Homo sapiens: one gene and its partner. The protein of the gene in region 1 binds, or shares a complex with, the protein of each later gene. Links are inferred from orthologs where the notes say so. Each region holds a gene or a part of one and is shown in the gene's direction. Other genes may lie near its edges. The genes, in order: GLMP and MFSD1.

The links.
Region 2: the proteins of GLMP (region 1) and MFSD1 are in contact, whole or in part, in a cryo-EM structure (PDB 8R8Q), measured with the Mus musculus proteins. The link is inferred for Homo sapiens from one-to-one orthologs. Residues at the interface, in NP_064387.1 of Mus musculus: Glu250, Asn252, Ser253, Ile254, Asp255, Asp256, Glu257, Pro260, Ala261, Phe263, Gln264, Arg292, Phe364, Leu367, Val368, Ile371, Met372, Ala375, Ala378, Leu381, Met382, Gly385, Phe389; in NP_080089.1 of Mus musculus: Val288, Glu292, Lys293, Arg295, Phe349, Phe351, Leu411, Asp412, Lys414, Gly415, Tyr416, Leu417, Leu418, Val421, Ile424, Ser428, Leu432, Val435, Leu439.

Annotation. Positions count from the first base shown.
Region 1 is NC_000001.11:156,292,680-156,299,571, reverse strand, and holds GLMP (glycosylated lysosomal membrane protein isoform 1 precursor), read left to right. Parts: upstream 1-3,892; 5' UTR 3,893-3,926; coding exon 3,927-4,046; exon of another isoform or gene 4,047-4,275; intron 4,276-4,555; coding exon 4,556-4,813; exon of another isoform or gene 4,814-4,896; intron 4,897-5,006; coding exon 5,007-5,207; intron 5,208-5,335; coding exon 5,336-5,554; intron 5,555-5,861; exon of another isoform or gene 5,862-5,954; intron 5,955-5,995; coding exon 5,996-6,252; intron 6,253-6,362; coding exon 6,363-6,528; coding exon of another isoform or gene 6,529-6,560; 3' UTR 6,561-6,884; downstream 6,885-6,892. Other genes in the region: VHLL (von Hippel-Lindau-like protein), read left to right, coding at 383-802. UniProt on the Homo sapiens protein: Required to protect lysosomal transporter MFSD1 from lysosomal proteolysis and for MFSD1 lysosomal localization.
Region 2 is NC_000003.12:158,805,054-158,812,578, forward strand, and holds part of MFSD1 (lysosomal dipeptide transporter MFSD1), read left to right. Parts: intron 1-308; coding exon 309-421; intron 422-1,986; coding exon 1,987-2,029; intron 2,030-2,342; coding exon 2,343-2,410; intron 2,411-4,125; coding exon 4,126-4,234; intron 4,235-7,525. UniProt on the Homo sapiens protein: Lysosomal dipeptide uniporter that selectively exports lysine, arginine or histidine-containing dipeptides with a net positive charge from the lysosome lumen into the cytosol.

The DNA of each region.
Region 1 (6,892 bases):
AGTGTTGGGATTACAGGTGTGAACCACTGCGCCTGGCCATGAAGTGTCCAATAAATATTAGATTGACATAAAGAACCCTCAGGTGTGCTATCTCATGGAATACCCTCAAATTCCTCTCTGGATCTTCCTATCACAGTTGTATTATTGGGGTCCCATTTGGATCTCTCCCACTATAGGTAGCTCTTCAGTGGGACGGGCTAGGTAAGAGAGGCTGGGAGTAAGTCTGTCTGATCTAGGATGTCTTGCTTACCACCCAGGTAGGGGGTTATATACTCCCAGCCTTTCTGATTCCATTGTAACTCTTGCCGAAATCCGGGTGAACGGAAGTAGTCTCTTTAAGAACTGGTATGGGCAGGCCCAAGTTGTCAAGGCTTCGGAGGTAATGCCCTGGAGAGCGGGGAACGGGGTGGGTTTAGAGGCCCAGGCGGGCACCCAGGAGGCAGGCCCAGAAGAGTACTGCCAGGAAGAGTTGGGCGCCGAGGAGGAGATGGCAGCCAGAGCAGCATGGCCTGTGCTGCGCTCTGTGAACTCACGCGAGCTCTCCCGGATCATCATCTGCAATCACAGCCCACGAATCGTGCTGCCTGTGTGGCTCAACTACTATGGCAAGCTGCTGCCCTACCTGACGCTGCTGCCCGGCAGGGACTTCCGCATCCACAACTTCCGAAGCCACCCTTGGCTCTTCAGAGATGCAAGGACACATGATAAGCTTCTGGTTAACCAAACTGAATTGTTTGTGCCATCTTCCAATGTTAATGGACAGCCTGTTTTTGCCAACATCACACTGCAGTGTATACCCTGAAAGAGCAATGCCTCCAGGTTGTCGGAAGCCTAGTCAAGCCCAAGAATTACAGGAGACTGGACATCGTCAGATCACTCTATGACGATCTGGAAGATCATCCAAATGTGATTGAAAGACCTGGAGCGGCTGACGCAGGAGCACAGTGAATATCTGTGGATGGCTGGGCACGGTGGCTGACGCCTGTAATCCCAGCACTTTGGGAGGCCGCAGCAGGCAGATCACTTGAGGTCGGGAGTTCGAGACCAGCCTGGCCAACATAGTGAAACCCGTCTCCACTTAAAAAATACAAAAATTAGCTGGGCGTGGTGGCACATGTCTGTAATCCCAGCTACTCAGCAGGCTGAAGCAGGAGAATTGCTTGAACCCGGGAGGTGGAGGTTGCAGTGAGCTGAGATTGCACCACTGTACTCCAGCCTGGGCGACAGATCAAGACTCCATCTCAAAAATAAATAAATAAAAAGAGAGAGAGAGAAAAGAAAATTAATGGATGGAAGAAGAGACTGAAGAATTTTTTTTTTTTTTGAGACAGAGTTTCGCTCTTGTTGCCCAGGCTGGAGTGCAATGGTGCAATCTTGGCTCACTGCAACCTCCACCTCCCAGGTTCAAGCGATTCTCCTGCTTCAGCCTCCCGAGTAGCTGGGATTACAGGCGCCGCCATGCCCAGCTAATTTTGTGTGTGTGTGTTCAGGAGTTCAATAGCAGTCTGGGCAACATGGTGAAACCCTGTCCCTACTAAAAATATAAAAATTAGCCAGGCATGGTGGCGCACACCTGTAGTCCCAGATACGTGGGAGGCTGAGGTGGGAGAATCGCTTCCACCCGGGAGGTGGAGGTCGCAGTGAGCCATGATCACACCACTGCACTCCAGCCTGGGTGACAGAGCGAGACTCCATTTAAAAAAAAAAATTAGCTGGGCATGGTGGCGTGTGCCTGTAATCCCAGCTACTCGGGAAGCTGAGGCAGGAGAATCACTTGAACCCGGGAGGCAGAGGTTGCAGTGGGTCGAGATCTCGCCATTGCATTCCAGCCTGGGCGACAGGTGAGACTCCGTCTCAAAACAACAACAAACAACAACAACAAAAAACAACAACAACAACAATAAAAATCCCCCCAGTAGAGAAAAATTTGGAAGAGACAGAAAAGGAAAAAGGAAAAAAAAAATCACTATAGATACACTACTTAAATACAACCGCTATTAGCATTTTGAGCTATTTCCTTTATCCTTTTTTACATAGTTGAGATCTTACTGTTTATATAGTTTTGTATCCTACTTTTTCATTTAATTTTATAACAAATATTTTTCCATGTTATAAGCTCTTCATAAACATTAGTCTTTCTTTTGCAATTAATGTTTGGGGTATTTTTTGGCATCTTTAGTTCCTTATCCTAACCTTTGTGCACAAGCCCTGTGTTCTAAAATCAGAGTGATGGCTAGTGTGGTGGCTCACCCCTATAATCCCAGTACTTTGGGAGGCCCATGTGAGAGGATCAGTTGAGCACAGGAGTTCAAGACCAGCCTGGGCAACATAGTGTGACCCTGTCGCTACAAAAAAAAATTTTTTTAAATTAGCCAGGCATGGTGGCATGTGCATGAAGTCCCAGCTACTTGGGAGGCTAAGGCAGGAGGATCACTTGAGCTCGAGAGTTTGAGGCTGCAGTGAGCCATGATTGTGCCACTGCACTCCAGCCTTGGTGACAGAGCAGGATGCTGTCTCAAAATAAATAAATAAAATAAAATCAGAGTGAAGTGAAGAAAACAAACACTCCAAAGTTTTCTACAACCCTTTTAAATTTCACCAAATTTTAGCCCGTTCTTTCTTTCTTTTTTTTTGAGATAGAGTTTTGCCCCTTGTTGCTCAGGCTGGAGTGCAATGTCGCAATCTCGGCTCACTGCAACCTCTGCCTCTTAGGTTCAAGCGATTCTCCTGCCTCAGCCTCCCAAATAGCTAGGATTACAGGCGCCTGCCACCATACCTGGCTAATTTTTGTATTTTTAGTAGAGACGGGGTTTCACCATGTTGGTCAGGCTGGTCTCTAACTCCTGACCTTAAGTGATCCACTCACCAAGGCCTCTCAGAGTGTTGGGATTACAGGCGTAAGCCACTGTGCCCGGCCTAGCCCCTTCTTTCTCTCTCTCTCTCTCTCTCTCTCTCTCTCTCTCTATATATATATATATATATATATATATATTTTTTTTTTTTTTTTTTTTTTTTTTTTTTTGAGACGGAGTCTCGCTCTTGTCGCCCAGGCTGGAGTGCAGTGGCACAATCTTGGCTCACTGCAACCTCTACTACCCGGATTCAAGTGATTCTCCTGCCTCAGCCTCCCGAGTAGCTGGGGTTACAGGCGCCTGCCACCGGGATTACAGGGCCCTGCCACCGTGCCCAGTGAATTTTTTGTATTTTTAGTAGAGACGGGCTTTCACCATCTTGGCCAGGCTGGTCTTGAACTCCTGACCTTGTGATCCACCTGCCTCAGCCTCCCAAAGTGCTGGGATTACAGGTGTGAGCCACCGTGCCCGGCCTTTTCTTTCAACATTTAACAAATAAGTTGGCTTTTTTGGAAGTATGTTGTTGTCATTTAGTGACACATCTCTAAATATTTACAATTTTTGTTGAAATGTTAGGCAGGGAAGAAGAACCACATTGTTCCACAGGGAAGAAGAACCACAGAGTTTCATGTGCTGGAGTAGAAAGAAGGTGTATGAGTTCCACAATGGGACAGGGTTGGGAACTTAAGGCAATGTACTGGAGTAGTTCCCTGTTGGGTTTATTTTCTTTAACCTGTCTTTGTGTCAAAATGAGATTTCACGTTCCTCTTAAAACATGCCGTTTGAATACTGTGTTTTTGGCATTGTCCAAGGAAAACTGAAAACTTGTAGCATGAATGTTTTTTTTTTCACTTAAAATCTTGTGACCATATTAAATTGTATTACTTGTAAGAGACTGACGTTTCCTGTTTTAAGATAGAATACAAAGCTGTTCTTTAATACATTAAATGGTGCTGACGAAAGGAAATTTTTTTAAAAAGCAAATAGTTTGGCGGCTCCGCCCTTGAAAGGGATCAGCTGAACGCGAGTCATGTGACCCTCTGGCACCTCTTCCGTCGGCTGAATTGCGGCCGTATGCGCGGCTCTGTGGAGTGCACCTGGGGTTGGGGGCACTGTGCCCCCAGCCCCCTGCTCCTTTGGACTCTACTTCTGTTTGCAGCCCCATTTGGCCTGCTGGGGGAGAAGACCCGCCAGGTGAGGGCCCTGGGGCTACAGCGATAGAAGTTTCAGGAAACGCTACCCTTGCAGGGTGGCTGGAACCGGGCATCCAGGGGCTAGGGGTGGAGGGTGGCTGCCAAGAGGAGGGTTCTTCAACCTGGAGGGTGTGGGAGATGGTCATGGGTCATGGGACGGGATTGTGGAGTAGGGCAAATGTGAGGGTGATGTCTGGACCCCGACTCAGCCCTGGGTGACCCAGGTCCAGGCAAGTGTTGAATGTTTTCTTCTTCGCAGCCCTGTGCCCTGACCCGCCCACCAGGGTCAGGGGAGTCCTGGCTGTACCCTCTACCCTACCCCTTTTCATCCTGTCCCCACTGCCCCTTACCCCAGGGTTCCCTCAGCTCCCGCACACATTCCTCTTGTCTAGTCCCCAAAATCCCATCCTTTGTCCAGCACTTTCCAAGCCCCCCTCCCCTCAAGCTTCTCTTTTGCCTGTGTCTCTCCTTGGTCCTGTTCCCTCAACCCTCCACTACTCCATGTTCCAGGTGTCTCTGGAGGTCATCCCTAACTGGCTGGGCCCCCTGCAGAACCTGCTTCATATACGGGCAGTGGGCACCAATTCCACACTGCACTATGTGTGGAGCAGCCTGGGGCCTCTGGCAGTGGTAATGGTGGCCACCAACACCCCCCACAGCACCCTGAGCGTCAACTGGAGCCTCCTGCTATCCCCTGAGCCCGATGGGGGCCTGATGGTGCTCCCTAAGGACAGCATTCAGTTTTCTTCTGCCCTTGTTTTTACCAGGGTGAGGAGGTTGGGAGAGAACCAAGGAGAAGAGTGCAGAGGAGAGAGTTCATCCCAATTAGAGGGTGGAACTAAAGACTGGGGGTGGGTGAAATAGACTCAGATATGAAAGCCTTGGTAGGGGGTGAGTGGGAGGTGTGGTCTCGGGAGAAAAACTGAGGCAAGCCCAGTTCCACCCTACCCCCACCCTCCAGCTGCTTGAGTTTGACAGCACCAACGTGTCCGATACGGCAGCAAAGCCTTTGGGAAGACCATATCCTCCATACTCCTTGGCCGATTTCTCTTGGAACAACATCACTGATTCATTGGATCCTGCCACCCTGAGTGCCACATTTCAAGGCCACCCCATGAACGACCCTACCAGGACTTTTGCCAATGGCAGCCTGGCCTTCAGGGTAAGGCGTGAGAAATCGGAAAGAGCTCAAAAAGGCTGATTTGTGAGGGTGGGATTTAATGATGGAGGTGGCCCTTAAGCACAGGCATCCAGCTATTTCCCACACCTCCCATGCTTCTTCCTTCCTAGGTCCAGGCCTTTTCCAGGTCCAGCCGACCAGCCCAACCCCCTCGCCTCCTGCACACAGCAGACACCTGTCAGCTAGAGGTGGCCCTGATTGGAGCCTCTCCCCGGGGAAACCGTTCCCTGTTTGGGCTGGAGGTAGCCACATTGGGCCAGGGCCCTGACTGCCCCTCAATGCAGGAGCAGCACTCCATCGACGATGAATATGCACCGGCCGTCTTCCAGGTCAGGCTTCCTGGAGAGAGGCAGATGGGTGAGGAATGTAGGTGGGACACCATTGGGACCTAAAACTCATTCAACCATTTGCCATTTAGCAACACTTTCTTTGGGTCGTTTAAGAGCTAGGCACTGTGCTAATGAATCTGACCCAGTCTCTGCCCTCAGTGGAGACAGACAGAAAGTGCAATATGACTTACACTCTGGCAGATGGAGATCTGCAAGGGGGCTAGGGGCCAAGAGGAGGGCTGAGTCCAGACTTGGAGGTTTGGAAAACAACTCAGTCCTCACCCAGTCGAACTCCCCATTTTTACAGAGGAGGGATTGAGGCCCTGCCTAGGACTCAGGACTCCTGCTGCTAGTCACAGAATAAGGCTGGGAGTGGCAAGGAAAAGAGGGTCGGGCACAGGTTGGTCCTCTTTACCCTCCCTTGTTTGCCTTTCTTCCCAGTTGGACCAGCTACTGTGGGGCTCCCTCCCATCAGGCTTTGCACAGTGGCGACCAGTGGCTTACTCCCAGAAGCCGGGGGGCCGAGAATCAGCCCTGCCCTGCCAAGCTTCCCCTCTTCATCCTGCCTTAGCATACTCTCTTCCCCAGTCACCCATTGTCCGAGCCTTCTTTGGGTCCCAGAATAACTTCTGTGCCTTCAATCTGACGTTCGGGGCTTCCACAGGCCCTGGCTATTGGGACCAACACTACCTCAGCTGGTGAGAGCCAGGGTTTGGGCCGGGGACTTGGGGAGTTGAAGTGGACAAAGGCTGAGCCTCCCAGCCTTTCCTCCTAAGCCCGCTTACCTCTCTCTCTCTGCTTGCTCTAGGTCGATGCTCCTGGGTGTGGGCTTCCCTCCAGTGGACGGCTTGTCCCCACTAGTCCTGGGCATCATGGCAGTGGCCCTGGGTGCCCCAGGGCTCATGCTGCTAGGGGGCGGCTTGGTTCTGCTGCTGCACCACAAGAAGTACTCAGAGTACCAGTCCATAAATTAAGGCCCGCTCTCTGGAGGGAAGGACATTACTGAACCTGTCTTGCTGTGCCTCGAAACTCTGGAGGTTGGAGCATCAAGTTCCAGCCGGCCCCTTCACTCCCCCATCTTGCTTTTCTGTGGAACCTCAGAGGCCAGCCTCGACTTCCTGGAGACCCCCAGGTGGGGCTTCCTTCATACTTTGTTGGGGGACTTTGGAGGCGGGCAGGGGACAGGGCTATTGATAAGGTCCCCTTGGTGTTGCCTTCTTGCATCTCCACACATTTCCCTTGGATGGGACTTGCAGGCCTAAATGAGAGGCATTCTGACTGGTTGGCTGCCCTGGAAGGCAAGAAAATAGATTTATTTTTTTTCACAGGGCTCCAGTC
Region 2 (7,525 bases), on another chromosome or scaffold:
GTTATAGTCAGACAGAAGTGGTCCCTGTAGCAGGGTGTCTGATCCTGGAATCCAGGAAGCCCCTGAAATGGCATGTGAACTCAAGAAGTTCCCAGGGTTCCCAGGTGTGACCATTTTCCTGGGCCAGGGGCCATAGCTTTCATGAGATTCTCAAGGAAGTTAGTGAGACTTATAAATGGTTAAAAAAAACTTGCCCTTTACAGAAAGAAGAATGTAACTACTTTCCACTTTAGATTGTCATATTTTGATTTGTTAGTTGCTAAACTTAACTGTTTGGAAAAAAATAGTTTTATTTTCTTTTCATATAGGATATGCAAGTGAATACCACGAAATTCATGCTGCTGTATGCCTGGTATTCTTGGCCCAATGTAGTTTTGTGTTTCTTTGGTGGCTTTTTGATAGACCGAGTATTTGGAATACGGTAAGCTTGAAAAGAAACTATGGGTAAATCTTACCTGATTGTTAGAAAAATACAGAGCTAGATTAAGGTATTTCTAGAAAGAGCTGAATAAACTTCTGTATTAACTAATAATTTGCTTGAGTTTTTTAAAAAAATGATTTTTATATCTCTGGAGTTGGTTTTTGAAACGTGGTATTTCAGTTAAGGTCAGGACTAGTAAATGCTGATGGTATAAGGTAACTCAGTTATCCATAGGAAAATTATACTCACCCTTGGGATCAGGTAAACCAGGTTCTGAATCTTATCGTTGCCACTTTCTCATCTTCCTGGCTGTTCTGAGCTGTTTGCAGCTTCCTGAGCTTCAGTTCTCTCATTGCCAAAATATAGATGATTCCTACCTTGCAAGGTGGTTATGAGGATTAAGTGAGAGATGGATGTACAGTATTTGGCACATAGGTAGTATGTGCTTCCTCCAGCCCCGGTGAGATTTTCTATTTCTGCTTTTCTTGGGGTGTAAAACATTTTGTGACCACTTCTGTTAGAGGCTGAGCAGGGAATAACACTATAAGGTTTGCCACTGTTCATCCTTATTATTGTGTGTATGTTGTTAGTGGAACTGAAGAGGAATATAGACTGGGAATATTTTCAGAAGGCAAAGACCAAGATGATGAAAGGTCTTCAAACCATGTCTGGTGGATAAAGATTAAAGAAACTTTAAGAGTTTACACCTGGGGACTAACCTTTAAAATTTTTGAAGAGTTAAAATATGAAGGAAGAATTAAATTTATTTTTTTTGATCTCAAGAGAGAGAATTAGCTTGAAACTTCTGGGGAACAGATTCCTTTTAATATGAGGAGTTTGCTTGGTCAGATTGGCAGGAGATGACAAGAATTGTCTTGGAACCATAGTAAGTTTTCCAGTGCTAGAGAACATTGCTAGAGAACATTCAGTAGAACATGGCATGGTCATTTCACAAGGATCTTGAGAGAGATTTAAGTTTAAGAAGTATGGTTTACCCTGATGGCCTTTAAGGACTCTTCTAATACTGGCATTTTATTATTCTAGGGCAACATTAATCTGATGTCCAGATTGTAGGATGTTAGATTTGTATAACATGGTTGGTGTTTGTCCTTTTAAAAATTGGTTTTAGTTATCAAGAATTATAACCACTTAAAATTACTTACTGTAAAATTCCTTGGAATCAATCCTAAACTCTTAATAGAAATTTTATGAAGAATTTACATTTTTAAGTAGTTTTGACCCTGGGAACTTCTTGAAGATTAGTTGATTAGTTTTATTTAAGAGATGATAATGATTTAAACTAATATATGCCATTGCTAAAGCCTCCGGAATCCCCTTAGAAGTCTAGACTTCTGTAGATTCATATTTAGCCTGAGAGTTGCTGGCTTCAGAGGGAGATGAGCCCTTTATTTTTCTTTCTTTGGAGGGAATACAGAGGGAGGCAAAGAAAACCAAAGTGAATTATTACTAAAGGACTTTGTGATTACTAATACTAATGTAAACAGAAATTAAGATTTTTTTTTTCTTTTTCTTTTTCTCATTCTCATTCTTTCTTTCCCAAACAGATGGGGCACAATCATTTTTAGCTGCTTTGTTTGCATTGGACAGGTAAGGAAGGCCAAAACATTCATTGATTATTGACAGTGACTTCTAAATTCTTATCTAATTAATTCCATTGGCAAAGCTGTGTTTAATTAATGCCTAGCTTAATTAAGCAGAACCCATAAATGCCCATGTGATATAATCCATAGTCTATTTTAAGCCTTGAAATAAATGAACATTAATATTTTAACTTCACAGATTTATTAAGGAGAAATATTAAAACTATTGTAGAAGTTGAGATTTATCATGTTCCTTTTGCTTCTCTTTAATACTTTGAATTTACTTTTTCATTAATTTGACATGAACTTCTACATTATAGGTTGTTTTTGCCCTGGGTGGAATATTTAATGCTTTTTGGCTGATGGAATTTGGAAGATTTGTATTTGGGTAAGTTATGCATAATTTAATTTATCCTAATGTATTATTGTTTTAGTGTTCATCTATGAAAGATCTTTAAAAAACCTTGTCTCTTCTGGGGAATTACTTCAAATCTTTGAAACCTAGCTTCATATGCATAAGAGTATTTCTTAGTTGTCTTAGTTTTCCTTTAAAATAAGCAACAATTTTGAATGGTCCTAATCAACTCTGTGTGGGGTTTGAGTATTAAATAGTTCTCTGGAAATGATATTTTTCCCAGGCATTTTGCCTGTTCTGTTGTATTAAAGACTATGATTTGAACCACATTTAGAAAAGTATAGACCATCGATTTCTAGGTTGGTGACTGATGGACATTTCACTCTTTCTTAGCAAGTGATGCGAGGGTCCTTTCAACCCTGTCCAAGAGCTTTGCTTGAATGAGCACAATATGTGTAAGCTGACTATTCTGTGTGAATTCTTATAGACCAGTTGTTCTACCTGAATTGCATTGTCTGTTCAGTAAGCCTATTCTGAGACCAGCCTTGGGCTTGCTGCCCTGAGGGACCCAGATGACAGAACTGACTCAGTTTTAAAAGCATAACTTATTCAAGCTTTGCACAGGTGTCAGGAGCATGTAGACATAGGTGACATACCCCAAAAAGTAACCGTCAGTGAGAGAGAAGGAAGAAGAATGTATGTAAAGTTATGACAGGGATTCAGAAACAGAAATGTGGTCAGAAATGGCCTTACAGATGAAGTAGGCCTTGACAGAAGTACAGGATTTGGATTATTAGAAGAGAGGGAAAATATTTTTGGGCTAGGACAGAGTCACAAGAAATAAGACTATTTCTTATTTGTCTTAAGACTGTTTCTTAGTCCTTAATACTGAGGTGGCCTCGGTGTAAGGATATGGAGGAAGGAAGCTCCTAACTGAAGGCCCTTGGAGGAGAATCGTAAATATTGAAACTTACTGAAGGAAAATTAAAACCCAGGAAGTAGGAGAGTGTTGAATATGGAAAGTGAATGTGGGGATTGATTGATGGAGAGCTTTGCATATTGTTCTGAAAAATGTGAGTTTTTATGTTTTCACAAAGCATGGACCACTTTTCCCACATCTGCATTTTATATAATATCGATGGTAATGTAGTAACCAAGACGACTCCTTTTGTTGCCTATCATGGTTATTATTGCAGTATATCATGTGACTCCCACACTTAGCGGTATAAAACTACCATTTCATTATGCTCATGGACTTTATGGGCAGGAATTCGGACAAAGTGTAGCAAGGACAGCTTGTCTTTGCCTCTAGTGTCTGGGGCCTCAGCTGGTAAGATTCATGGAAGGGTGGGGGCTGGGATCATCTGAAAGCTTATTGACTCACATGTTTGGCACCTGGACTGGGATGCCTCAAAGACTGGGACTGCTGACTGGGGCACTTACATGTGGCCTCTCTTTGTGGTTTGCTGTCTCATAGCATGGGGGTAGTGGTTCAGGGCTCCAAGTGCGAGTGTCGGAGTGAAAAGGTGATGTCACCTTTTATAACTGAGCCTTGGGATCACACTGTCTCATTTCCACCATATTCTATTGGTTGAAGTAGTCACAAGCCCACCTGGATTCAAGGGGAGGGGACAGAGGCCCCATCTCTTGATAGGAGAAGTGCCAACATTTTAAACCTGCTGCATTGCTAACTGTAGTATTTCTTTAAAGTTGTGACTTCTGGTTTTTTTTTTTTTTTCTATTTTTAGGATTGGTGGCGAGTCCTTAGCAGTTGCCCAGAATACATATGCTGTGAGCTGGTTTAAAGGCAAAGAATTAAACCTGGTGTTTGGACTTCAACTTAGCATGGCTAGAATTGTAAGTATAATGAAAAGCCTGATGAAGCCAAATGGAAGCAAAAGATTAAATCTTATAGTTCTCTTAAAAATCACAGGATGAAATGTATTTGTGTATGGTAAATTAGATATTAACTTTTATGGATTTCTCTAGAACACAGCATGGCATTTACCTTGAGTAAAGCATTTCTAACCTTATTTCATCTAGTAAACAGTCTAAAATGGTTGTGTACATTCATTAGTTCAAAGAATCTGAGCATAGGGAGAGATCCTGTAAGTTTTGTTGTCTAATTTCTTACCCATTTTTGGCATCCCTGCTAGAACCTCTCCACATACGGCTGTCCAGGTTCAGTTTGCAATATTTCCAGGGATTGCAAGCTTGCTCTGTGATGAAGCAGCCCACCTACCTTAATGAACTTTATGAAGCGTAACCTCACATAGCGATGAAACCTCCATTTACAAGTAGCTTTTACTGATGGCTCTGACTTTTGCTCTCTGTAGATAAAGTTTACTTCCTCTGCTGTGCATCAGCACTTTGCTCCTTTGTAGACAGCTCTTAAGTTCTTGGTTATGTGTGCTCATTTCCTGTGGTTGCCTGAGCCATATGACATGGATCTCAGCTCCCTTACCATGGTGCTTATGCCTCTCTGAACTTATCTCAGTTAGCCAGTACTCCTGTTGGCATTTGGAACTTAGAAATGATCATGGTGTTTCAGGTTTGGTCTTAGAGGCTACCTAGCGGGAACAACATTATGGGTTTCGTTTGTTTGTTTGTTTGAGACAGGGTCTCACTTTGTTGCCCAAGCTGGAGTCCAGCAGTGCAATCTTGGCTCATGGTAGCCTCGACCTCCCAGGTTTAAGTGATTTTCCCACCTCAGCCTATAGAATAGTGAGACTACAGATGTGTACCACCATGTGCAGCTAATTTTGTGTATTTTTTATAGAGACAACACTATGTTTTTATTAATGCAAACTATAAGGTGTGTTGGCATTCCCAAATCCCATTAGGTTTTTTCTCTCAAGAATTCCCATGAATAGAGTATTAAAAAAAAATTTTTTTTGCCACTAAAAATCAAGCTTTCAAGCTTTGATTTTTAGTATATGTGCTGCCAAGGCGAGCAGAAGCTTTGACTTTTAATAAGTGTCGTGAAAATACAACATAGTCTCAGAGAATAAGAAACTCAATATAAAAATATTTTCATATAATACTTCATCATATGAGTATTTCTGTATTTTTATACATGTAAGTTCTTTCTGATTTTTCACTATTATAAATAGTGCTATAGTCTGACACTCTCGCTATGAAAGTTCTGTGCATCTCTTTTAGTCTCCATAGGCTAAGTGGCTAGGAATGGAATTATTAAGTCAGGGTATTTGTTAGGTCATCTGAGGACTATTGAGAGATATTTCCGCATTATCATTCCAGAGACGTTTACATCCCCACCTGTGGGATATGAGAGGATCCCTTTTATTGTAGCATTGATAGTACAGGCTATTATTACTTTTAGAAAATTACTTTATCACTTTGATAGGAAACAGCTAAATATTTGAATTTGTAATTCTTTGGTAAATAGTGTGGTTTTCCATATTTTCTAAATTTTGCCTATAAGGATATTCCCAAAGCCTTCATTACGAGTCTTGTGCAAGTCCAGATATGTCTGTGGCAGTTTGTGAATCTAGTTGTCTAACAACTTTTTAAAGAAGGAAGTGAAATCAGTTGAGCAAGACTCAACTGACTTCATTCTGGTTACCAGGACATCAGGTTCTTTTCTGTGTCATTTTAAGTTAGCTATAATTCATTAAGCTGCATTCTGAGGAGCCCTAAGTTTCTCTCTTTCTCTGTGTATGTATTTTCTTTTGATGACAGAGCTACTAGGATTGCTAACGGAAAATATGTAGAGTGTGGGGGAAAAACAACGGAGGCGCTCAGGATGACAGCACAGTTTTTGCTTAAGCAACTGTGAGCGCTGTAACCTAGCTCTTGATACTCTGCCCACCATCCCCTAAACCAGCTCCTGCTGTACTTTTCACATCCTTAGTTAAAGGCAACTGGGTTTTGGTCGTGTTAGGTTAGACATGCCTGCCATTCATCCAAGTGGAAATGTTGAGTAGGCAGTTGCATATACAGGTGTAGAATTCAGGGGAAAAATCTGGGCAAGTGATGTAAGTTCAGGAGCAAGGAAAATGCTACTTAAAATGGCAAAACTTGGTAAGATCACCAAGACTATGGATGTTGAAAGAAAAGAGATGATGTCAATTGACCAAGCCCTGGGGCACTTCCCACATTTGCAGGTTGAGAAGATCGAGATGGAACCAACAAAAGGGCTCCATTGGGGTGGGCAGAAAGGCAAGGGGGAAACTATAGGCTGTGGTATCCTGAAACCCAAGAAAAGAAATCAAGGTGGAGAGGATGTCAACTGCGTGAAATGCTATTGATAGGTCAGACACTGCTGAAGACTGAGAAGTGTACATGCCTTCAACAATGTTCTCACAGCAAATACAGTAGCAAATTTCACATGGCTGTTTCTTATAAAATACTAGCTAATGGCATTACTCAAATAAGCAACAAGGTAAACAGAGACCTACTGGAAGCTTTCTCTAATACCATCAAAAATATAAATTCCTCAAAGATAGGATGTTGCCTTAATAATCCTTTCATTCCAAAATACCTATTAAATAACTATTTAAAATCTCTTTTAACTATTTAAAATATCTATTAAATAAAATAACATGACCTGGCTTAGCAAGTACTCAATAAATGTTTGTTGAAATAATGAGTTTTCAAGTAACAATAGTGAAGGAAAATTGAAAGGGTGCTGGATCTCCAGTCCCGAGCTAAGACATGAATACTAAGAAAAATGAGAAGTGCACTGAAGGTATATGGTATATGCTAATAGTTCAAGTGTCTAAACACAATCAAACTCAAAAACTCAGGCAATAGAAAAATCATGGAGAGGTAAACCCAGGACCTCTGTGGTCATTCTGGAGGCTGCACAGGGAACAAGAGAAGCGCAAAAAAGACGGAATCTATGTCACCCCCAGCAGCCCTATAATGGAATAGCTCTTGGCCATTTTGATCATAAAATCATCTTACATGGACGCTAAATACATAAATCAGATAAAAGTTGAGCAGCGTTGGCTGAAACTGAGGTGGCTGCCTGCGATCTGGCTCATTTCACCTCCTCAAGATCTCCCTACCACTCTCATAATCCCTAAACTGCCTCTAAGAAGCCCCTGAGATTCCCTTCTAGAAACTCAGGGCAACTTATATGCAAATATATCTATGCTCTGACCACTTCCCACCATGCCCACT